3 linked regions of the Homo sapiens genome follow. The protein of the gene in region 3 purifies or fractionates together with the protein of the main gene of each other region. This does not show direct contact. Each region holds a gene or a part of one and is shown on either strand. Other genes may lie near its edges.

Region 1 (7,024 bases), on a different chromosome or scaffold from region 3:
CCCAGTGGATTTCTGCTCAATTCTGAGCACTGCGCTATGTCTTTGAATATCCACACCTAGCAGAACTATACAGAGGAAGTGCTTAGTAAATATCTGGTGACTCAATGAGTAAATTATAAGGAGCTGTAAGGTTTAGGGACAAAGCACACTGACATGCACACATCTCCTTAAGAAATACCCTGCATCGTGAGCTGGGATCGCGCCACTGCACTCCAGAGCCTGGGCAACAGAGCGAGACTCCGTCTCAAAAAACAAAACAAAAAACAAACAAACAAACAAACAAACAAAAAGTCCTGCATCATTACAGATTTACAGATGCTCCCCTAATTCAGACTGACTCATTCTCAGCCTTATGCAAAGGGTTCCATTTTAAGATTTTACAGACTTAGTACATTAGTTTCCTATGGCTGCTGTAACAAATTACCACAAACTTGGTATCTCAAAACAACAGTAATTTATTCTCTCACAGTTCTGGAAGCCAGAGTCTGAGATGAGAATCACTGTGCTAAAATCAAGATGTCAGCAGAACTGCACTCCCCGCAGAGGCTTTAAGGAAGCATCTGTTTCTTGTATCTTGCAGCTTCTGGTGGCTGCCGGCATTCCTTGGCTGTGGCTTCATCACTAAAATCTTTAAGATCAGCATTTTCAAATTTCTTTCTGTTTCATCTTCACAGTGCCTTCTCTTCTGTGTAAGCAAAATCGCCCTCTGCCACTTTCATAAGGATGCATGTGATTGCAGTTAAGGCCCACAGATAATCCAGAATTATCTCCCCATCTCAAAATCCTTACTCTCATCTACAAAGACCCTTTTCCCAAATATGATAATATTTATAGGTTCCAGGGAGGACAACCTAATGTCTTTGGGAGCCATTACTCAGCTTAGTATTACTGGAAGAACAGAGCAGGTAGCAGTGATTGCAGCAAGTCTCACACTGTCTCTACTTGCTGCAAACATCTGTGTTATTTCTGCATAATGCCTGCAGTTACATATGTGGTATTATTGCAATATACAGCACATGCATTCAAACATTTTGGATTCAAATTAAAATCTGAGCTGCACAACAGCCTCCTGAATGGAATGACTGTGTAACTTGGGGAATGTCTACATTATCCATTATGTGGGGGCAGGAGTGGGGGGCTAACGCCTAGTCTCTCCTGTGTAATTGGCCTTAGCTCTGCCAATTACTCTATCCTTATTGTTAAACACAATCCATGGGAGGAAACCCAAGAGGGAATTAGCTTATGTGGGAGAGGTTAGTTTGGGTAATAGGAATGTACTCTGCAGCTTTTGATTCAGTTTAGGTTCATTGATGGGTCAAGTTGGGTATTGGCAGAAAATTTGGAATTGAACCATTTTCTTTACCACTCTAATGCTGTGCACCGTCCCCTATGCTCCTTGGGTTTCCAGGTTAGAAACACTTCTTGAGGTGGGGCTGGCCCTCCACATGGTTTATTTCTGCTTCTTGCCTACAGACTGGGCATCAAGTCTGCTGGGAACCCATCCTACAGGACCCTCCTAAGGTAGAAAACTCCATCTCCACAGGGTTGAGTTAAATTTTCACACATATGAACAGATGGAATTATTCATACTTGAGCAGTTTTCAAAATTATGCTTTCATGCATTTGAACACTGTCATTTCTTGATTTATTCTCTAGTAATATTAATACATCTAAAATTCTTAGGACAATGCAGGGCTGAGATTAGGCTAAGGCAAGTGACACACTTGCCTTGGAGGTAAAATTTAAGAGGGTGCCAAAAAACTCAGTAATCAAAGTAACATTTTAAGGCAATATGTTAAAAATATCAACTCAAAATCAAAGCAGCAAACTACAGCTCACAGGTTGACTATCTCTGTAAATAAAGCTTTATTAGAACCAGTGAGACAGCCAGAGGGGAGGGGGTTCCCAGAAAAACTCCAACTGGCCTGTGCACTGGGGTGGAGCTGCGGAAGTTTGTGCCACTTGCAGCAGGGAAGAGCCTGGCCCCTCCTCTTCCTGTGTGGAACCTGGGATTTGGGCGCGGTCCGGAAGTGCTCTAGATGAACTCTGGCCTCGCTGAGAGTCCCTGTTTCCCCTCTTTTTTCCTTTTCACCCAATAAAGCCCTGCTTTACTTACCCTTCAAACCATCTGTGAGCCTGAATTTTCATGGCTGTGGGATGGACAAGGACCCCATCTTTAGCTGAACTTTAGGAAAATTCCTGCAACACCAGGTCCAGGTGGGCCAAGTGTAGCATAGTCATGAAAGTGTTAATTGAATCTTGTCTTTAAAGTACTGATATTTTGTTCATTAAGAATTTTTTGCATTATGTGATTTTAAAAAATAATTTTAAAATAACTTTAATTTTTAAACTGAATTCTTAAATATTTTTTTAAAAACTTTTTTTTCAAGACAATTATTACAATTTGATATGGAGCAAAAGTGCTTCATGTATTTTTTCCCAATCTGTCACAGAGAATGTTAAAAAGACATACTCAAGAATCACAATTTTAAGAAATTAATAATTTTTACTGCCTCATCAAGGATATTATTGGGTGAAATATACATTTTGTTTTACTGTGAGTAGACAATGGCCAAAAGTTTCATCTGCTGTTATTTTTTAACCATCAATGCAAATGTCAATGCAGTGAAAAGGCAAATAACATCTTAGAATTAGAATGAAAATGATTTTAACCCCAAAGACGCCTTGAAAGGGTCTCAGGAGACAGCAAGGTCTATGGGCCAGACTGTGAATTGCTGCCTTAAAGGGTAAAGCTTTCACAATATATCAAAAGCATTGTCAGTCACAAGATAAGATCCTCAGTCAGATGGGGGCAACATAATTATGACTAATCTCAAAATTAGTTTTGGAAAAATCAGTGAAGAGTTGAGCAAATTGACTGTCATATAAATAGTTTTGAGCAATCAGGAAATCTTTGAGGCTAAAGATAAAATGTGAAAGAATCTGAATGGCATGAATATAATCCATGACCTGAAGGCACGGCCATTTTAGGGCAGCAAAGTGGAGAAAGAGCACCCCACCCATCACTTACCTTCCATTCCTTGCCCCCACTGCCTCCTGGGTAATGAGGGAGCAGAGGATACTAGAGCAGCAGCAGCAGCAGCAGCAGGAAGAGTGAGGCAAACGGAAGGAGAGCACAGGGCATCCGAAGGCTGCTCCAAGACCTTGGGGCCGGTCAGCCTGGTGCGGAAGCTCTCCTGCCATTTCCTAGCACACAATCTTGGTTGAATTCCCAAAGCCCACTTCTGGCTGAGTCTCCTCCACCATGTGTAATATGGATTAATATTAATACCTTCCTCATACAATTGTTGTAAGGAGTACATGATATGAAGTAGCTAAGGCACTGAGCACAGAAACTGAGACAATAAGTATGCAGTAAATGTATCATATTAAGCAGAAGGAACATTATTTCTGTGCTCATTCACTGCCCAGTGTTCCGTAACTTTTCCCTACATGCATCAACACTTAGCCCAGAGCCTTCTCAGTGTTAGGTGTTCAGTAAGGGAAGCCTGTCTGGACCTGTCACTTCTTCCACGCTGCACTGAGAGTCATGACTCAATGACAATTCATGCAGAAATCTGATGTTTAGGCTGGGCATAGTGGCTCACGCCTGTAATCCCAGCACTTTGGGAGGCTAAGGCAGGTGGATCACCTGAGGTCAAGGAGTTCGAAACCAGCCTGGCCAACATGGCAAAATCCTGTCTCTACTAAAAATACAAAAATTAGCCAGGCATGGTGATGGGTGCTTGTAATCCCAGCTACTCAGGAGGCTGAGACCTGAGAATTGCTTGAACCTCAGGGGCAGAGGTTGCAGTGAGCTGAGATTGCACCACTGCACTCCAGCCTGGGCAACAGAGCAAGACTCCATCTCAAACAAAAAAAAAAGGAAATCTGATGTTCAAATATGAAAAAATAGACATAAATGTGCAAATTATTATGTAAAAATATAAATGTTTGTTACAGAATTGTTTTATATTTTCTTAAAATCATTTTAGTATTGAAAACACACTGAAAAACAAAGGAATCAGCCTTAAAAAGTGACACTAGCAAAACATTTAACACACCAACAGAAAAATATATCAACCCTGCTTTTTGCTAGTAGGTCTCTGTGGTAGACAGAATGCCTCCCATTCTACCCCAAGATGTCCACATCTTGATTTCCAGAACCTGTGAATATGTTACTTTATATGGCAAAAGAACTTTACTGATGTGATTATGTTAAGGACCTTGAGATGGGGACATTATCCCGGTGAGCCCAGTGTAACCACAGAGGTCCTTAATGCCTGGTGAGCCCAACATAACCACAGAGGTCCTTAATGGAAGACAAAGGCAGATGTCAGGGAAAGATGTGACTTCAGAAGAAAGGCACAAAGAGATGCCACATTCCTGGCTTTGGAGATAGAGGAAGGGGCCATATGCCAAGGAATGTTGACAGCCTCTGAAAGCTGGGAAGGGCCAGGAAACAGACTCTCCCCTAGAGCTTCCAGAAAGGAACACAGCCCTGCCAACACCTTGATTTTGACCCGGTGACACCCATGATGGACTTCTGAAATACAGAATCATAAGATGATAAACTTATGTTGTTCAAGCCACTACACTTGTGGTGACTTGTTACAGCAGCAAATAGAAAACTAATACAGTCCCAAAGCTTATCCAATCACCTGTGGCATACTTCAGTGCACAATAAAGAAGTAGCCAGGTCACCAGGATGGGGACTAACAAGTCCTACAGCTTTACTAAGCTCCCCAGTGCAGCTTCTGGCCATTGAAATGCCACAAAATAAGAGATTTCTCATGAACAACCATCCCTACCCATGAGGATTTGGATTCAAGAGTTCTGAAGTGTGAGAATATCCATGTTTAACAAATCCTATTGGTGACTTGGTTAGACATGGTCAGTGGTCCACACTTTAACACACATTCATTTCTGTTTTTATTTTTTGGAGACAGAGTCTAGCTCTGTCACCCAGCCTGGAGTGCAGTGGCGCGACCTCAGCTTACTGCAACCTCCGCTCCCAGGTTCAGCAATTCACATGCCTCAGCCTCCTGAGTGGCTGGGATTACAGAAGTGCACGACCACGCCCAGCTAATTTTTGTATTTTTGGCAGAGACGGGGTTTCTCCGTGTTAGCCAGGTGGGTCTCAAACTCCTGACCTCAAGTGAGCCACCCTTCTCGGCCTCTCAAAGTGATGAAATTATAGGCATGAGCCACCGCACCCAGCAGAAACATTCATTTCTGTATGTAAGGTGCTTACAGTTTAGGGGCTGAGTAAATATAATTCCAATCCCTAATAGAAAAATATATATGCATTATTTTAAAGACAAGTCAACAGCCAGGGACAAGAGTAAAGGACTAGAAATGTCCTAGAACACATACATTCTTTTGTATGCTTATGTCAACAAAAACAAGTTACAGAATTAAACCAGATGAGAACTCCGTCTGCTCTCCCCTATGCGACCAGTGCTTCAGGGTTAGGGGGCAGATGAAATGGAATCCTGGCAGCCCTATAGACCTCTCACTGAAAAGCATCCCTGCTGACCACAAACCCAAGCCGGGCCCTTCCTACCTCCTCACCTGTCTCAGCTGTTTCCTGATGAGGTGGAGATGTGCTGGCCCAGGGTGTGTCATCTTCAAACTGAACCCAGTTGCTGATGGCCGAGGCCAGGTCAGGTGGGGGCTGCTCAGGGCTCCCAGGTGGGGAAGCTGCTTCAGAGATGAGGCCCATCTTTTCAGAGGAGTCATCCTGCTCCGAGTGGGAATGGTCTTGAGAGCCTCCATCCACCACATGGTTCTCCCCGGAGGAGCTCTCGGACTGGTCTGGGGAAGATGACAGTCCTGGGAGGTGCTCTTCCGTGCCCCCTGAAACAGATACCAGACGCCACCATCATGTGAGGAAGGCCGCTCTTCAGAGCCATCTCATGGAGGCAAAAACTAAGGATGACCATGGGGTGCCCGCATGACTCGCCACTGCAGTGAGTGGGGAGAAGAAAGAGCCACACCCATCTGACTGCATGTTAAATGACTGTTTCCCTAATCATGTGTAAATGCTGTAAGCTCAGCATGTCTCCAGTCAGTATCCTGGCAGGCAGAGACTAGGAGCCTTCTTCACTATTCTTATGCCAGCATCTACTCCAGTGCTTGGGGGTCACAAAGGAAAGTGCTTACAGAGGTCAAGTAGGAAATATACCTGAGTCAAGTGAGACAAGTGAAAGGCAAAAGGGACTGGTGGGGACTGTGGCTGAACAAGAGCACTTCTGTCTGAAGACATTCAAATTCAAATTTCAAATTCTTTGCAGTCTAAGCTATACACAGCCACAGGACACCAGGTGCAAACCCATGTGCACTAATGACCAGCTGAATGTAACCTAGAGGTTATTTCTGCAGCACTGTATCACTTGATTGGCCCCAGAAAATTAAACAGCCTTCAAAAATTTTTTTTTTGGAAATTAAAAAACCTGGCCGGGCGCAGTGGCTCATGCCTATAATCCCAACACTTTGGGAGGCCGAGGTGAGTGGATCACCTGAGGTCAGCGGTTCGAGACCAGCCTGACCAACATGGCAAAACCCCATCTCTACTAAAAATACAAAATTAGCCGGGCATGGTGGCACATGCCTGTAATCCCAGCTACTTGGGAAGCTGAGGCAGGAGAATCGCTTGAATCCAGGAGGCGGAGGTTGCAGTGAGCTGAGACTGCACCACTGCACTCCAGCCTGGGCAACAAGAGCGAAACTCCGTCTCAAAACAACAACAACAACAAAAAAACTATATCCTGATTATGGTGGTAGATACACAAATGTATACATGTGCTGAAATTCATCAGCTGTACAACAAAAGAAGTCAATTTTTCTGTATAAAGGTTTTTAATCAAATAATTAATATAAAATCTTTTCTCCCATCACTAGCCAACCGGTCCATCTGCAAGTATTCAAAGCCTCTACAGCACGTCAAACAGAAATAAAATGTGAGCTACATATGTAATTTTAAATTTTCTAGTAGCCACATGAAAAAAATTAAACACAACAG
Region 2 (7,024 bases), about 19 Mb from region 3:
GAACCCTGTGGGACGGGCAGAGGCGGACAGGCAGGCCGCAAGGGTGGGCTGCAGGGGAGTTTGTCTCCGAGTCCTTCTGTGCAAACCGTGGGAAGGAAGACTGTTTTTCCTTGAATATGCAAAAAGAAAGCAGCAGTCCTTATGCTGGCCCAGAACTGCCGGTTGAGAGAAAAGTGAATTTCCATTTCCAGAAGTAGGGCTACAGGCAAGGGGGGGCTACGGGCCAGGTTCTCACTGGCCTATGCTGGGCACGGCGGTGCAGGACACTGAGTGGGAGGAGACTCCTGGACCCCAGGAATGTCACCTTGTTTGGCGCCCTCCTTCTCATTTCCACTTCACAGATAAGGAAACGGAGGCCAGCTGGGAGGAGGCACTTTCCCTTGCCGAGGCCCAGAGCTAAAGGTGGCAGATGGGGGCTGTAGCCCCGGAGCCCACAAGGACACCTGGGGCCTCAAAAATGAGGCCTGGGATGGCTGATCTGCTGGGGGAACAGAGGGAAAGGCTTTAGATCTGGGCATGGAGAGGGACCGAGGCTGGCCTGTGTGGGCTCGTTCTACCGGATGAGGAAGGCAGGTGTCCCAGGCTCAGGTGGTGGGCGGGGCAGGTGTGGCTGGGAGCCAGGGTGCTCTCTGGAGGTGCAGCCAGAGATCCAAGGTCAACCCTGGAGGGACAGGCAGTTCCTGGTTTTTTCTAAACATTAGCTTCGAAACTTCCAGAGTTAACACGCCGGAATCGTGTTGCATATTATTGAGCTTCCAGTCTGGGGTGCTGCGTGGACCACGTTGAATGCCCAGGGACTCCGTTGGGCAGATAGAGGGGTGTCAGGAGCATGGAGTCAGCCCGGCTGGCCTGCAAACTGCAGATGCTGGAAGGCCCGTCAGGTGGGACCTCCCGTCACCAAGCAGATCTTAACAGGCCTCTGCTTCTTGGTGGAATGTTCTGGTACATTGGCAGGATGCACTGGGAAAAGCTACCATCCTCAGGCCATGTCCCCCACACAGTGTCATTTTCCTCCATTTCTGAACACTTCTCTCTCACCTCCCTGTCAAGATATACCTTGCTGGGACCGGGCATCCTGGAGTTCCCTGCTTGGCAGAAGCCCAGAAAGGCCCAGATAAACGCTGCCCCTTGGAGCCACCAACACCAGAGGGACAGAAGTGGGGGCTAAAAAAGAACTTAAGGCCAGGTGCAGTGGCTCATGCCTGTAATCCCAGCACTTTGGGAGGCTGAGGCGGGCAGATGACTTGAGGGCAGGAGTTTGAGGCTAGCCTGGGCAACATGGCAAAATCCCATCTCTACTAAAAATACAAAAATTAGCCACGCATGGTGGCTCATGCCTGTAGGAGGCTGAGGTGGGAGGATCGCTTGAGCCCTGGAGGCCAAGGCCGCAATAAGCCATGATTGCACCACTGCATTTCAGCCCAGGTGACAGAGCAAGACTCTGTCTCTGAAAAAAAAAAAAAAAAAAAAAAAAAAAAGAACTTAAACCTCAGCATGGCAGAGCTGTGTGCAGACCCTTATAACTAACACACCGAATAACCATACCACGTTGTGAAACTAATTCCTCCTTTTCATTTGCAAGTAACTCTCCCCTCTGCCTTTTTTTTTTTTTACTGTTAGAAGCTTGCAGTGTATTTTTCTGCTCAGCCATGATTTTTTAAATTAGTATGTTAATAAATGTGTTGCCATGCTAAAATGAATCTGTTTGAAACGTACCTGCATGCAAACTATTCTAGGACAACTCAAGTTTTAGCTGCTCTGTGTGCGTTGTGTATGGGAGTCATCTGAAGTGTTTTTCCTGTGTTGTTCACAACCCGTTAAGCCCCTGGGATAAAGCTGATTAAAACTGGGATTCCCCAGGGTACCCCCGTCCAGCCTGTTAGCCAAGTTACAAGCTTTTCTCAGAGAAGCGCCCCGGGCTTGTGCCCACCAGCATTCTGCTCTGTCCGGGTGAGTAACTCATATTTCTTTCTTTCTCCTTTTTTTTTTCTCCTAAACTTTCCAGGTAAAAGTACACCTGTAAGCCAGCTTGGTTCCGCAGACTTTCCCGAGGCCCCCGATCCATTCCAGCCACTCGGGGCTGACAGCGGCGACCCGTTCCAAAGTAAAAAGGGGTTTGGGGACCCGTTTAGTGGAAAAGACCCATTTGTCCCCTCCTCTGCAGCTAAACCTTCTAAGGCCTCTGCCTCGGGCTTTGCAGACTTCACCTCTGTAAGTTGAGTCCTCCGCCTCCGGGCCACCCCACTCCCTTCCGCTTGCAGCTTCCCTGGGATTTTTGTCTCCTTTTAAAGGCAAACCTCCCAGCTTCTTTAGCCTCTTGGTACCTCACACTCTCTGTCCCTCGCGTTATTTATTCTACACTGCCACTTCTGTAAGAAAAACAGTTTCTCAATAAAAAAAAAAAGAGCCGCAGTTTGGATGCTCTATCATAAGGGCACGTTTTCTTCCAGCAGGGAGGCGGGACCTATCTGTCCTTCACGGTAGATTCATTGTATTATTTCTGACGCACCGAGGCTGTTGTGTTCACTGGTTTTTGGAAGCCAAGATGTCAAACACTTCCGAAGTATGAAAAGAAGATTGCGAAAGTTACATTAGGGTTCTGCTGTCCCCAAAAAGCCCTTTGTGCACAAGTTCTCACAGTCCCGCCCCATGCATTTTGTGCCACAAGTGCAAATTGAAGGACTTCAGGCAGATCGCGCCAGGGAAGAGCAATTTGAAGTTTTTTTTTTTTAAAGCTTTTAAATTTCAGTTACCAGCTCCAATGAAAAAAGAAATCCAGTCTAGAACAGCCACTCTGAAAGCCAAAACAAAAAGAGCTCCAAAAAACTGTTGAGCAAAGTTAAGTGCCTTTTCGGAAGCAAATCTCGGGATTTCGAAAGCCTGGCTTTGTTTTTCTCTGTGTGAAAAAATATTCCAGATTGTAACATGCCGTCGCTTCAAGGAGTTTTTAGCAGCTTCCTTGATACATGAAAATCTTGTTCTCTGAAAGCTTCAGGTGTTGTCTTCCCAGAATTGGTTTCACTATGTGTGATGCCCTCGCTTTCTTCCTTTGGGCTTGTTAGTTCCTTCATCATTAGGTGTGAGATGTGTTATTTATAGATGCTTCGACTCCTGGGATGGCTCTTTGAACACAGCCCTGCCATGTCAATGCACAGAAAGCACCCGATTTGTTTCTGAGCCGTCTTGATAATCTCTACCGTGCACAGCTATCCTATGGCTTATTTGTCAATTTATTTATTTTAGTGACAGGGTCTCGCTGTGTTGCCCAGCCTGGTCTGCATTGGCGCGATCAGAGCTCACTTGTAACCTCGAATTCCTGGGCTCAAGCGATCCTCCTGTCTTGGCCTCCTGAGTAGCTGGGACGACAGGCGTGCAACACCACGCAAGGCTAATGTTTAATTTTTTTTTTTTGTAGAGGTAGGGTCTTGCTGTGTTGCCTGGGCTGGTCTGGAACTCCTGGCCTCAAGCGATCCTCCCACCTTGAAGTACTGGGGTTACACGTGACTGGCCCATGTGGCTTATTTAAATCGCCCAAGACCCTGACCTGTTTCTGGCTCTTGGTGACCTATAAATATTTTACAACGGCAGTGAGTTTGATTTTGTTGACCCTAGATGCGCACTGGGGGTCTATACAAAATGGTGACATTGTTAATAAAAGCCAGAAACAAAACCTGCTTTATCTAGAGTTTCTTGAATAGCCCTTCATTTATTTTCTGGTGGAAAAATATTAAACGCTGATTTAAAAAAAACAGAACTCTTCACACATGACTCAGGTACTCTGTCTTGGGTAGGGAAGAGTTAGGTAAGTGGGGTGAACGGCAGCTTGAAGAAATGACTGTTCTCTTTCTGAAATTCATAATTCTATTTCCTGTGACCCCAACCCGCAAAGGGCTCGTTTTTTCGAAAAGCATAAAAAAAAAAAAAACACCCAAGGTTTCAAGGTATCATTTGGCTTAGCATTTCTGGTAGTTCCAGAACAATTGTTAACTTCAGTTTTAAAATAGCGCCAGCCATTTTATCACCCTCATCTCCTGGTGGGAAAGCAAATTCCACCCAGGCCTGGATGCAGCCCTGTTGTTTTCTGTTTTTTTTTTTTTTTTCCCTAAGTTTTTGGTTTTTACATATTTGGAGATGAGTCTCGCTCTGTTGCCCAGGCTAGAATGCAGTGGTGCAGTCACAGCTTCACTGCAGCCTTGACCTCCTGGGCTCAAGCAATCGTCCCACCTCAGCCTCCCACGTAGCTGGGACCTCAGGCGCGCACCACCACATCTGGCTAATTTTAAAATGTTCTGATAGAGACAAGGTCTCACTTTACTACCCAGTCTGGTCTTTGAACTCTGGGCTCAAATGATCCTTCTGCCTCAGGCTCCCAAAGTGTTGGGATTACAGGCATGAGCCCCTGTGCCCGGCCTGTTTTCTGTTTAAAATCACTTTTCCCACTGCAAATACCCCAGTTTTTTTCCAGAGGAAATGATCAGATAGTGTACTTCAGCCACTCTGAAGGGATGGGTTGAGTGAAGACAGGACCCTTAATTGTTTTTGTTTGTCCCCTTGGGTCGTATCATTGTCTAAAATCATCCATAACCAGCTCTCCTCTGGGGACTCAAGATGACGTCTCTCCATGTTCACGGCATTCGGGGGCTCAGCCGATCAGCTGGTGGTTTCTGGGTTCACTGGATCTTGACTATTTGTGCTAACTTAGAAGAGGGCACAGCTGCTTCCTCTGGTTTGAATGATTCCACTTCCCTGAGCAAATGCCAAGAGGGCTGTCTGACTGCCCGGCAGATTGGCAGCGTGACTCTTTCAGCGTGGACGTTCTGAGACTGCTGTTCAGGGCATGTTTTTACCTGTGCAGGAGCAGCCCAGTCCATGCTGGCAGTCAGGGGGGCCCAGGTCACCCGCACCTCACTTGTGGAGGTGGTGCCCCGGCGGTGCCTCTCCAGAACCCTCTAATTTACAAACCCCAAATTTCCATCAATGGGTTATTTGCGTGTGTGGCTGTTCCCGGGAAACCTCTTCCCTCTCTGGTATTTCTTTAAAAGCAGGCCTTTCTGTCTCAGGCAAATGTGTGTATTAGGAAGTGGCATTTCTAGGTTAGCGGAACGGTTCTTTTGGAAGTTCGCATTAAGAGTAGTGCAAATACCAGATCAGCTAGGCCGTGCTTCGAATTATTGAAGGAGTTGGATACAATTTCATTGTCGGTAAATGAATGAATGGGAAGTGGCTAGGCATGTCCTGCACATGGTGGGGTGGAAGTGCCATCAGACACCTTGGAGCGCCAGTGAGGACAGGTGCCGGGCGCCTCCCGGGGCCATCCCATCGCCCAGCGTGCCGAGCTGTCTAAACTGCGGATTTCCAAGAGGCTGCTGAAATGAACCACTTATTTGCTTCTGAAAATGAACCCCATCCTGAGTGGGCAGGCCTCGGCTAGGGTGGTGTCATGCCCCTACGGTGTCTCGGTTCCATGGTAATGCCAGAGGGAAGCAGAAATCAGAGCCAGTGTGTTTCCCAGCCACTATTGGTTTTGCATCGGCCACAGACATCCAGATTCTGGCCCGTGTGACCCACCCAGATACGAGAACTAGAAGGTGGCCCCGTCCAGGGCTAAGACAGCAGACACAGAGGGAGCTGCGGAGTCCCCTTTCAGGAGAGCTCTCCCAGGCCTCACAGCCCAGCGTGCCTCCTAAGTGCATACAGACCTCACCAATGCAAGTCTCCACAGTGGATTCGTGAGCTGGCCTTGAACCGGTCGACTCTGAAGGCACCAGGAACTTTCCTGCTGACACCTTTCATTTGGAAACACAGACCCGTCAAGGGAAGGCGCTTCAGTGACACTGTGACACGGGGGCTCAGTGGGGCCAAAGGCGGCCAGAGGGCTGTGGTTCAGACCCAGCAGGCCGGTTACTTGGTCGTTCCAGGCTTTGATTTGGATCCAGGCGAACATTACTGTCAGCTCCCACCCACCCTGTCCTCAAGGCTGGTGGAGGGTGAGGTCCCCGTCAGCTGCACTGTCTCCCTCCCACTGTTGTCAGCAGCACCATGGAATAATTTCCACCTGCACTTGTTGGTTTTTCCTTGTTTTTCTCCCCATGAGGTGTTGGAAAATTCCCCAAACTGGGGCGGGGGGGATGCTTATCTGTGCCCCTGGCAGTGACACAATGGCGGGGAGGGAGTCCGACCTGGAGACTCATCAGACCCCCAAGTGTTTAGCTGGGCAGTGCCTCTTTAAGAAGTCAAGACTCAGCCCTTCCTCCCAGGGACATCTTTTCTTGATACTGACACTCCGCCTGTCCCCCATCTGGGTCCTGAGGCCAGCTAGAGGGAGGCCTCCAGGGCCCCGCATCCCCCTCACTGCCACATCTGCCTCCCAACCAGGTTCCTTGCATTTATCTGCTCCTGCACCTTGCCCAGTCCCCCCAGCCCTGCCATCTGGCCCTCCTCTCTCCTGCTTCCCGCTCATGCCACCATCAAGCCGTGAAATATCCAGACGCTGCCAATCTGATCACCCAACTCGCTCGCCCAAGGAGCCTCCACGGGGAAATCCCAGCTCCTTCCTGGGGCCCACGAGCCCCTCCTCAGTCTGGCTTATCCCACCCCACGCTTCATCCTGGCTACCCCAAGGTCGGGCACTGAGCCTCACACCCAGAACCTCGCAGGGACGCATCCTCCCTGTCAGTTTCACCTAGTATCCTGCTCCCCACAGGCCTGGGGGGGAAAAAGTCTAGAGTGTGAGCCACCCCTTCCCTGGCCTCAGTGTCCCCAGCTGTCAGAGGGATGAGATGACAGCGGGCCCACCCCCAGGTTGTCACGCAGACCTAGTGCTGCGTGTGGTGGAGAGGCCGTGAGTGTTCCTGTGTGCTTCTTTCCCCCACCTTCCTGGGTTAGTCTGCAGGGCCCTCCTCGAGAGCCTGGGTCCTTGGGTCCTGGATCGTTCTGGGATTGTTTGTATATTTCTGCTCCCAAGGGTGCCTGGGGAAGAGCCACTGCGCATGTTATCTTTGGTGTTACTCCAGTGTTGAGCAGA
Region 3 (7,024 bases):
AACTTACTGGAAGAAGTGGCCACCCATGGTCTGTGTGTTTACAGGGCAACAAAGCTGCCCTTTATATAAAGCCCAGATGCTGGGTCCACCACTGTCCCCACAAGCCGAAATCAAGTATCCTCTTTGGCAGCCAAGCCCCTGTTCTAGAAAAAATGAGTCATCTGGGAGACGTGGGTCCTGCCCACCTGGTCACCTTCCAGATTGAGATGCAGTGGCAGGAGCCTCGGGAATTAACTTGCCTGCCCCGGCCAAGCAGCAAAGTGTCTCCTCTAGTGTTTCTAACTCATGGACTGCACCCATTTCTGCCTGCCCCACCAGGCTCTAGGCTTGACAGTTCAAGGTAAGATCCTCCTCCCTTCCTTCCTCCCTAGGGCAAGAGGCTTGCAAAATTCCTGGGCCCTAGGCAAGTGGCTTCCTCCCTGGGACCCCAACAGGAAAATGGAGGAGAGAGATGGGCCCAGAGAGGGTGCCTCACCTCTGATTTGGTTTGGAAGCAGAAGACTAAGTGCACAGCCTAGAGGAAGCCCCTTCATTAGCTCAGGCAGCCTGCAACTTTATCATCAGCAGTGGGACCTGCTGCCTCCTGAAGGGTGGGCGGAGGCTGTGGCAGCAGCAGATGTAACAGGGCCTCTGCCAGGGAGTTAATGGGGCCCTGGGTTGGGGTAACAGGGTCTCCGGATGGAGGAAATGTGGTGTGGGGACAGGGGAATGTGGCATTGGGACCAGCATTTAGTCCTGGCCCTAGCTCTGGTCTTAGTGGGTTCACTGCAAACTTGGTTGCAGCCCATCTGTGAAATGGACCTAACACTTACTCACTGAGCAAAAAGCTGTCAGCTGAACACAACAAGAGGGAGGGGATGGGATGGCCTGCATAAGCCTCCAGGGAGCAGTGGAATTTTTTCAGGGAAGTGATCCTTTGAGGAACCAGGTTGCACACCACTGACTTCAATGACTATAAAATTAGCCAGCGACTTCCTTAATGCTAACAACAACCCATGAAGTCAGGACCTAACAGAAGGAAACAGGACTCAGAGAGGGAAGGCTGCTTCTCTGGGGTCACTCTGTGTGCACCAGGGCTCTGACTGGTGCCCTGTCCCTCAGTCACTACTGAGGCTGATAGTGGCAGTGCCCAGCAGCTGACAGACGTAGAATATTTTATATAGGTTGGGCCCCATGCTCAATGGTGTGCACATGAGCTCGCCAAATCCCCAGATGCACCCAGTGTGGTGAGCTCTGCCATAAGCCCCATTTTATAGGGGATGACACTGAGCCCTAGGGAGGGAAACTGCTCACTGGGCTTCTGAGCAGGAAGGTGTCAAGCAGGCCTCAGCTCTCCACCTGCCCATGCTTGCAAGGATTGCCTGGCACTTCACTGTTCATGTATCTTGGACTGTGTGCACACAGGCTGGTCTACCCAGACACCCTCCTGAAGGAAACCAAGGACTGGCAACAGCTGTGGTCCCCGAGGAGGGGAAACGGGACAGCAGCTAGAGGGATGCTGAAGTGTCCATCAGTGCCACTTAGTGTACACACTGTGGTCTGGTGTCCCAAGGCTGATGGCTGTGACCACGTCAATCAGCTCCTCTGTGAAAGTGTCCCGTTGGGATATTCACAAACATTCACAGAAGAGAGACAGGAGCAAGTCTTTTTCAATTGCACATGTCTGACTCCTCTCATAGAGTTAGGTCCCTCTCTCTCTGTCTTCTGTCTTCTCTTACCTTCCCCTGCTTGGTTTGCTTACTTCCCCTTTAGCTCTCATCTCACATCCAGTCCCAGCTCTCCACAGTAGCCATGCTGGTGTGCTAGATACGACCCTAGACATAGTAGCTGGGTAAAATGTGCAGCATTCCTGTGGGTATGTGTTTTCAAACATTTGCTTAAATTTGGCCAGGCATGGTGGCTCACACCTGTAGTCCTAACACTTTGGGAGGCCAAGGTAGGGGTGCGGGGGAGCGGACTGCCTGAGGTCAGGAGTTCGAGACCAGCCTGGCCAACATGGCAAAACCCCGTCTCTACTAAAAATACAAAAATTAGTCAGGCGTGGTGGCAGGCGCCTATATCCCAGCTACTCGGGAGGCTGAGGCAGGAGAATAGCTTAAACCCGGGGGGCGGAGGTTGCAGTGAGCAGAGATCACGCCACTTTACTCCAGCCTGGGCGACAGAGTGAAACTGTCTCCAAAAAAAAAAAAAAATTTGCTTAAGTTTAAGGCCAGGTGTGGTAGTTCATGCCTGTAATCCCATCACTTTGGGAGCCTGAGGCAGGATCACTTGAGGTCAAGAGTTCAAGACCAGCCTGGGCAACATAGCAAGACCCTGTCTCTACAGAAAATTTTTAAAAATTGGCCAGCATGGTGGCACATGCCTGTAATCCCAGCACTTTGGGGAGGCTGACTTGGGAGGATCACCTGAGGCCAGGAGTTTGAGATCAGGCTGGGCAACATACTGAGACCCCGTCTCTACAAAAAACAAAAATCAAAAAATTAGCTGGGCATGGTGGTGTGTGCCTACAGTCCCAGCTGCTCCAGAGGCTGAGGCGGGAGGACTGCTTGAACCCGGGAGTTTGAGGCTGCAGAGAGCTATGATCGCACTGCACTGCCTGGATGACAGAATGAGACCCTTTCTCTAAAACAAAAAAAATTTTTTTTGCTTAAATCATGTAGTGTTGTAAACCTTGTTTGGTTTCTTAACTTTTTCACTTAACATTTTTTTTTCTTTTTTTTTTGAGACAGAGTCTCACTCTGTCGCCCAGGCTGGAGTGCAGTGGCGTGATCTCAGCTCACTGCAACCTCCACTTCTTGGGTTTAAGCGATTCTCATGCCTCAGTCTCCTGAGTAGCTGGGATTACAGGCGATCACCACCATGCCCAGCTAATTTTTGTATTTTTAGTAGAGAACTGGGTTTTACCATGTTGGCCAGGCTGATCTGGAACTCCTGACCTCAAGTGATCCACTCGTCTTGGCCTCCCAAAGTGCTGGGATTACAGGCGTAATCACTGCGCCTAGCCAAGATTTGGTTTTTTTAGAGGGCTTTACTTCCATGTGACTAGTATCTTGTACTGTTGGACATTTTTACCATGTGTATGGATTATACTTACAAAAGAAAAGAACAACATAAATAAAAATAAACTAAAAGTTGGAGGAAGTAAACGACAATCTAAACAGCAGACCCTCCTCAGCCTACTTTCTCCCCACTGGCTAAATTCACACCCTCCAGACCAACGCCACTGTCCTGGGGGCAGGTGGATGGCCACCTCCTTCCCTTGGATGCAGGATGTTGCCCAAACCAGGGTGGCCATGAGCGGGACACTTACGGGCCTCGGGGCAGCAGCACTTGTCTGGGCAGCAGGGGCACCTGACGTAGCAGCAGCAAGTGTGCGGGCAGCACTGGCACCAGCAGATGCCCAGGAGGAGGAAGATGAGGAAGGCAGCCAGGCATACCACAACCACGAAGAGCCAGTCTGCAGAAAGACAACAGGCCCTGAGCCCGGAGGCCTGGGAGGGAACAGGGCTAACGGCACAGCAGGGGTACATGGTGCGGAGCCAGCACTGAGGTCGGGGACGATTTGCAAAGCTCACCAAGGAACCTGCAGCCCTGGCTGGATTTTTTGTGCCAGAGGCTGGGCACAGCACACTCCCCATTCTACCATCCCGGCCATTCCCCAGTTACGGCCCTCCCCCAGGTGCAAAAAACACAAGGCAGAAAACGAGGCAGCCTGCACAGAGGGAGACAGACTGCAGCCCCCAGACCAAAGAGAGAGCCAGCTGCCCAGACGCCACACCCTCAAGAGCACCGCAGGTGCCAGTCACAGAGCCCTGGCCTGCACCCCAGGCTCTCCTCAGCCCAGCCTAGCCTAGGCCCAGCGCCAGACCACTAGATGCCTCAGAGCCACAGTCAGGCCAGGTTAGTGAGGGGTCCACAGTGAGCAGGGTTTAGTGGGGAAGGGGATACTAACTAGAGTCAGAAGCAGTAGGTGATGTATGGGAGCTCCCGAGAAGCCCAACTCAGGATCCACCCCCCGTACCTTCTATGGGCCCCGCCTGAAAACCAGGTAAGAGCTCAGCCACCCCTGAGGTCCTCCCTGGAGGGACAAAAGAGAAACAGATTATGCTGGCCAGAGCCAGCCCAGGCTGTGCCACCCCCGAAAGCCCAGCTCCAGGCTGGCCAAGTGCAAGGTGTGCCCTGAAGCGGGAAGGGGCTGGGGGCTGAAGCCCTAGTGCATGGCTCCTACCCTCCACCCGCCCACATGTGGGTGCTTATAGGTAAGAAACTCCCATTGCATAATCCACCTGTGTTATGCCACGAGGGCTCCAATACAAATCCCAGGGGGTTCTGAGGGCTCTACCTCAGCTTGGGCACCCTAAGTTTCCCTCATTCATAGGTCTTAGCACCCCAAAGGGCTCCAACCACGGTGATAGGGATGTCCTGTTCCAGCAGGCACAGGGACCTAGGGCCCACGAAATAGGATCTCAGCTCTGTCGCCCAGTCTGGAGTGCAGGGGTGTGATCATGGCTCACTGCAGCTTCAACCTCGTGGGCTCAGGCGATCCTCCCACCTCAGCCTCTGGGGTAAGTAGCTAGGGCTACAGGCATGTGTCACCACACCTGGCTGAAATGGTTTAATTTTACTTTACAAATCTGAACACAAATTAACACAATATACAGGAATAAACTCTTTGTGACAACATAATCACACATTTTTTTTAAAACAGGAAGGGACCCATGAAGGCAAAAATACCCACATATGAAAGTCATATGCAGTCCTGGTTCTGGGACCCACAAGGTCTCCATCTCTACTCATGCACTGTCACATTCACGCATCTCAGAGCCGGTTCTTGTCTTCCCTCGAGTGCCCCTGGAGCTCTGAGCCCCACCAGTGTTGTGTCTGAGGGGCCTCCACAGGCCCAGCTCTGCACCCACGAAGCCCTCCCCAGAGCTCATGCACTTGGCACTATAGGCCCTCGCAACAGGACAGAGGCATGTCAGTCACAGCTCTCAAAGCGTGGTCCTGTCCACAAGGCCAAAAGAAGAAATTTTAGAATAACACTAAGATGTTATTTGCCTTTTTCACTTGTTCTCCCATGAATGTCCAGTAGAGTTTCCCAGGCTCCCTGATGCCATCATCGCCCTGATGCCTAATGGACTATATGCGTGTGTGTGTGTGTGTGTGTGTTTGTGTTTCTTGAGCCAGGGTCTCTGTCACTCATGCTAGAGTGCAGTAGCATAGTCACGGCTCACTGCAGCCTTGACCTCCTGGGTGCAAGCGATACTCCTGCCTCAGCCTCCCAAGAAGCTGGGCTCACAGGTGCATGCCACCATGCCTGGTTAATTTTAAAATTTTTTGTAGAGTCAGGGTCTTGCCATGTTGCCCAGTCTTCCTTGTGTATCTTGGGCTTGAAAAATCTCCCCATTTTAAGGCCGGGCAGTGGCTCATGCCTGTAATCCCAGCACTTTGGGAGGCCCAGGTGGGTGGATCACGAGGTCAGGAGATCGAGACCATCCTGGCTAACATGGTGAAACCCAGTCTCTACTAAAAATACAAAAAAAATTAGCCGGGTGTGGTGGCGGGTGCCTGTAGTCCCAGCTACCTGGGAGGCTGAGGCAGGAGAATGGCGTGAACCCAGGAGGTGAAGCTTGCAGTGAGCCGAGATCGAGCCACTGCACTCCAGCCTGGGCGACAGAACGAGACTCCATCTCAAAAAAAAAAAAAAAAAAGGAAAATCTCCCCATTTTAATTCCTAATATGTTAAGCAACAGATAGACATAAAACCCACAGAAACAAACAAAAGCTCTTGGAGACCCTCGATAATGTTTTAGAGTGTAAATAGACCTGGAGACTAATTTTGGGAACTGCTGATGCAAATGGTGCATTTTACCGAAGAACAGGCAGAGGTTCCTGGGTCACTGGTGCACGTGTTCCATCCCCCACACATGAACTCTGTCTTGCAGCCCAAGTACCCCCCAGTCACGTGCTCATTCACACATGTGAAGATGGCAGTGTACAGCCCAGCGGCATCACTCATGCAGAGCACATGTCATACAAGACTCCATGTGTTGGCTTACAGCAGGGCACCTGGCCGATGGCAACATCCCCCTAACACAAGGAGGCCTCCCAGCCACACGGACACCCCGCCCTGCCCCTGGGTGTCTGGAATCGGCTTCGTTTCAGCTGCACTCAAACTTACACAGTGTGTGTGCCATGCAGCGCCATCCCAGCAGGGCACACGGCAAAACCGCTGTGCTTTGGCGAGGGACTCGGGTGAGATGAGGCCTTGGGGATGTAGCAAGAGGTGGGTCGATTTTGCACACCATCAACTGTCCTCATTCACTGCCCATGGACTCTGACCACGTCTGGATTTTTTTTTTTTTTGGACAGAGTCTCACTCTGTCGCCCAGGCTGGAGTGCAGTGGCTTGATCTTGGCTTACTGCATCCTCTGCCTCCCAGGTTCAAGCAATCCTCATGCCTCAGCCTTCTGAGTAACTGGGATTACAGGCATGTGCACCACCACGCCTGGCTTTTATATTTTTTATAGAGACGGGATTTTGCCACGTTGGCCAGGCTAGTCTCGAACTCCTGGCCTCAAGTGATCCACCCGCCTCGGCCTCCCAAAGTGCTGGGATTACAGGCATGAACTACCGCACCCGGACCCCAAGTCTGGATTTTTTTTAAAAATGAGACTTTGAAAAGGCAGAGTCTCCAATTGTCTCCACTCTTCTCTTAGTTTGGCTTGGGTGATTGGAGGCACTGTGGGCCAGTGGTCCCTGCCTGGGGTGCAGGGCACAGGGGAGCCTAAGTGACTGGCAGAGCCTGGGGGAGAGCAGAGCAGGCGACAGAGCCCAGAGGGTAAGCTGGAGGGCAGAGGGCGGACACAGGGGAGGGCAGACAGAACAGAAGCGGACAAAAGGAAGGGCCATGCCTCCCCCTTCCCAGGCCCACTCACCAAGGACGATGAGCTCTGCGTAGGCCTCATTGTTCCCCTGGAGGTCCTGGGCTGAGACCACGGAGCAGTAATACACACCACTGTCC

The links.
Region 1: the proteins of LSR (region 3) and STON2 purify together in Homo sapiens (affinity purification with mass spectrometry; 2 studies listed by BioGRID and IntAct, with this or other methods). This does not show direct contact.
Region 2: the proteins of LSR (region 3) and EPS15L1 purify together in Homo sapiens (affinity purification with mass spectrometry; 2 studies listed by BioGRID and IntAct, with this or other methods). This does not show direct contact.

The regions. Positions count from the first base shown.
Region 1 is NC_000014.9:81,390,320-81,397,343, forward strand, and holds part of STON2 (stonin-2), read right to left. Parts: intron 5,860-7,024; coding exon 5,575-5,859; intron 1-5,574. UniProt on the Homo sapiens protein: Adapter protein involved in endocytic machinery. Involved in the synaptic vesicle recycling. May facilitate clathrin-coated vesicle uncoating.
Region 2 is NC_000019.10:16,356,966-16,363,989, reverse strand, and holds part of EPS15L1 (epidermal growth factor receptor substrate 15-like 1), read left to right. Parts: intron 1-2,005; coding exon 2,006-2,211; coding exon of another isoform or gene 2,212-2,220; exon of another isoform or gene 2,221-2,412; intron 2,413-7,024.
Region 3 is NC_000019.10:35,258,979-35,266,002, reverse strand, and holds part of LSR (lipolysis-stimulated lipoprotein receptor isoform 2 precursor), read right to left. Parts: coding exon 6,939-7,024; intron 6,933-6,938; exon of another isoform or gene 6,182-6,932; intron 5,005-6,181; exon of another isoform or gene 4,601-5,004; intron 4,079-4,600; coding exon 4,022-4,078; intron 3,458-4,021; coding exon 3,311-3,457; intron 1-3,310. UniProt on the Homo sapiens protein: Probable role in the clearance of triglyceride-rich lipoprotein from blood. Binds chylomicrons, LDL and VLDL in presence of free fatty acids and allows their subsequent uptake in the cells.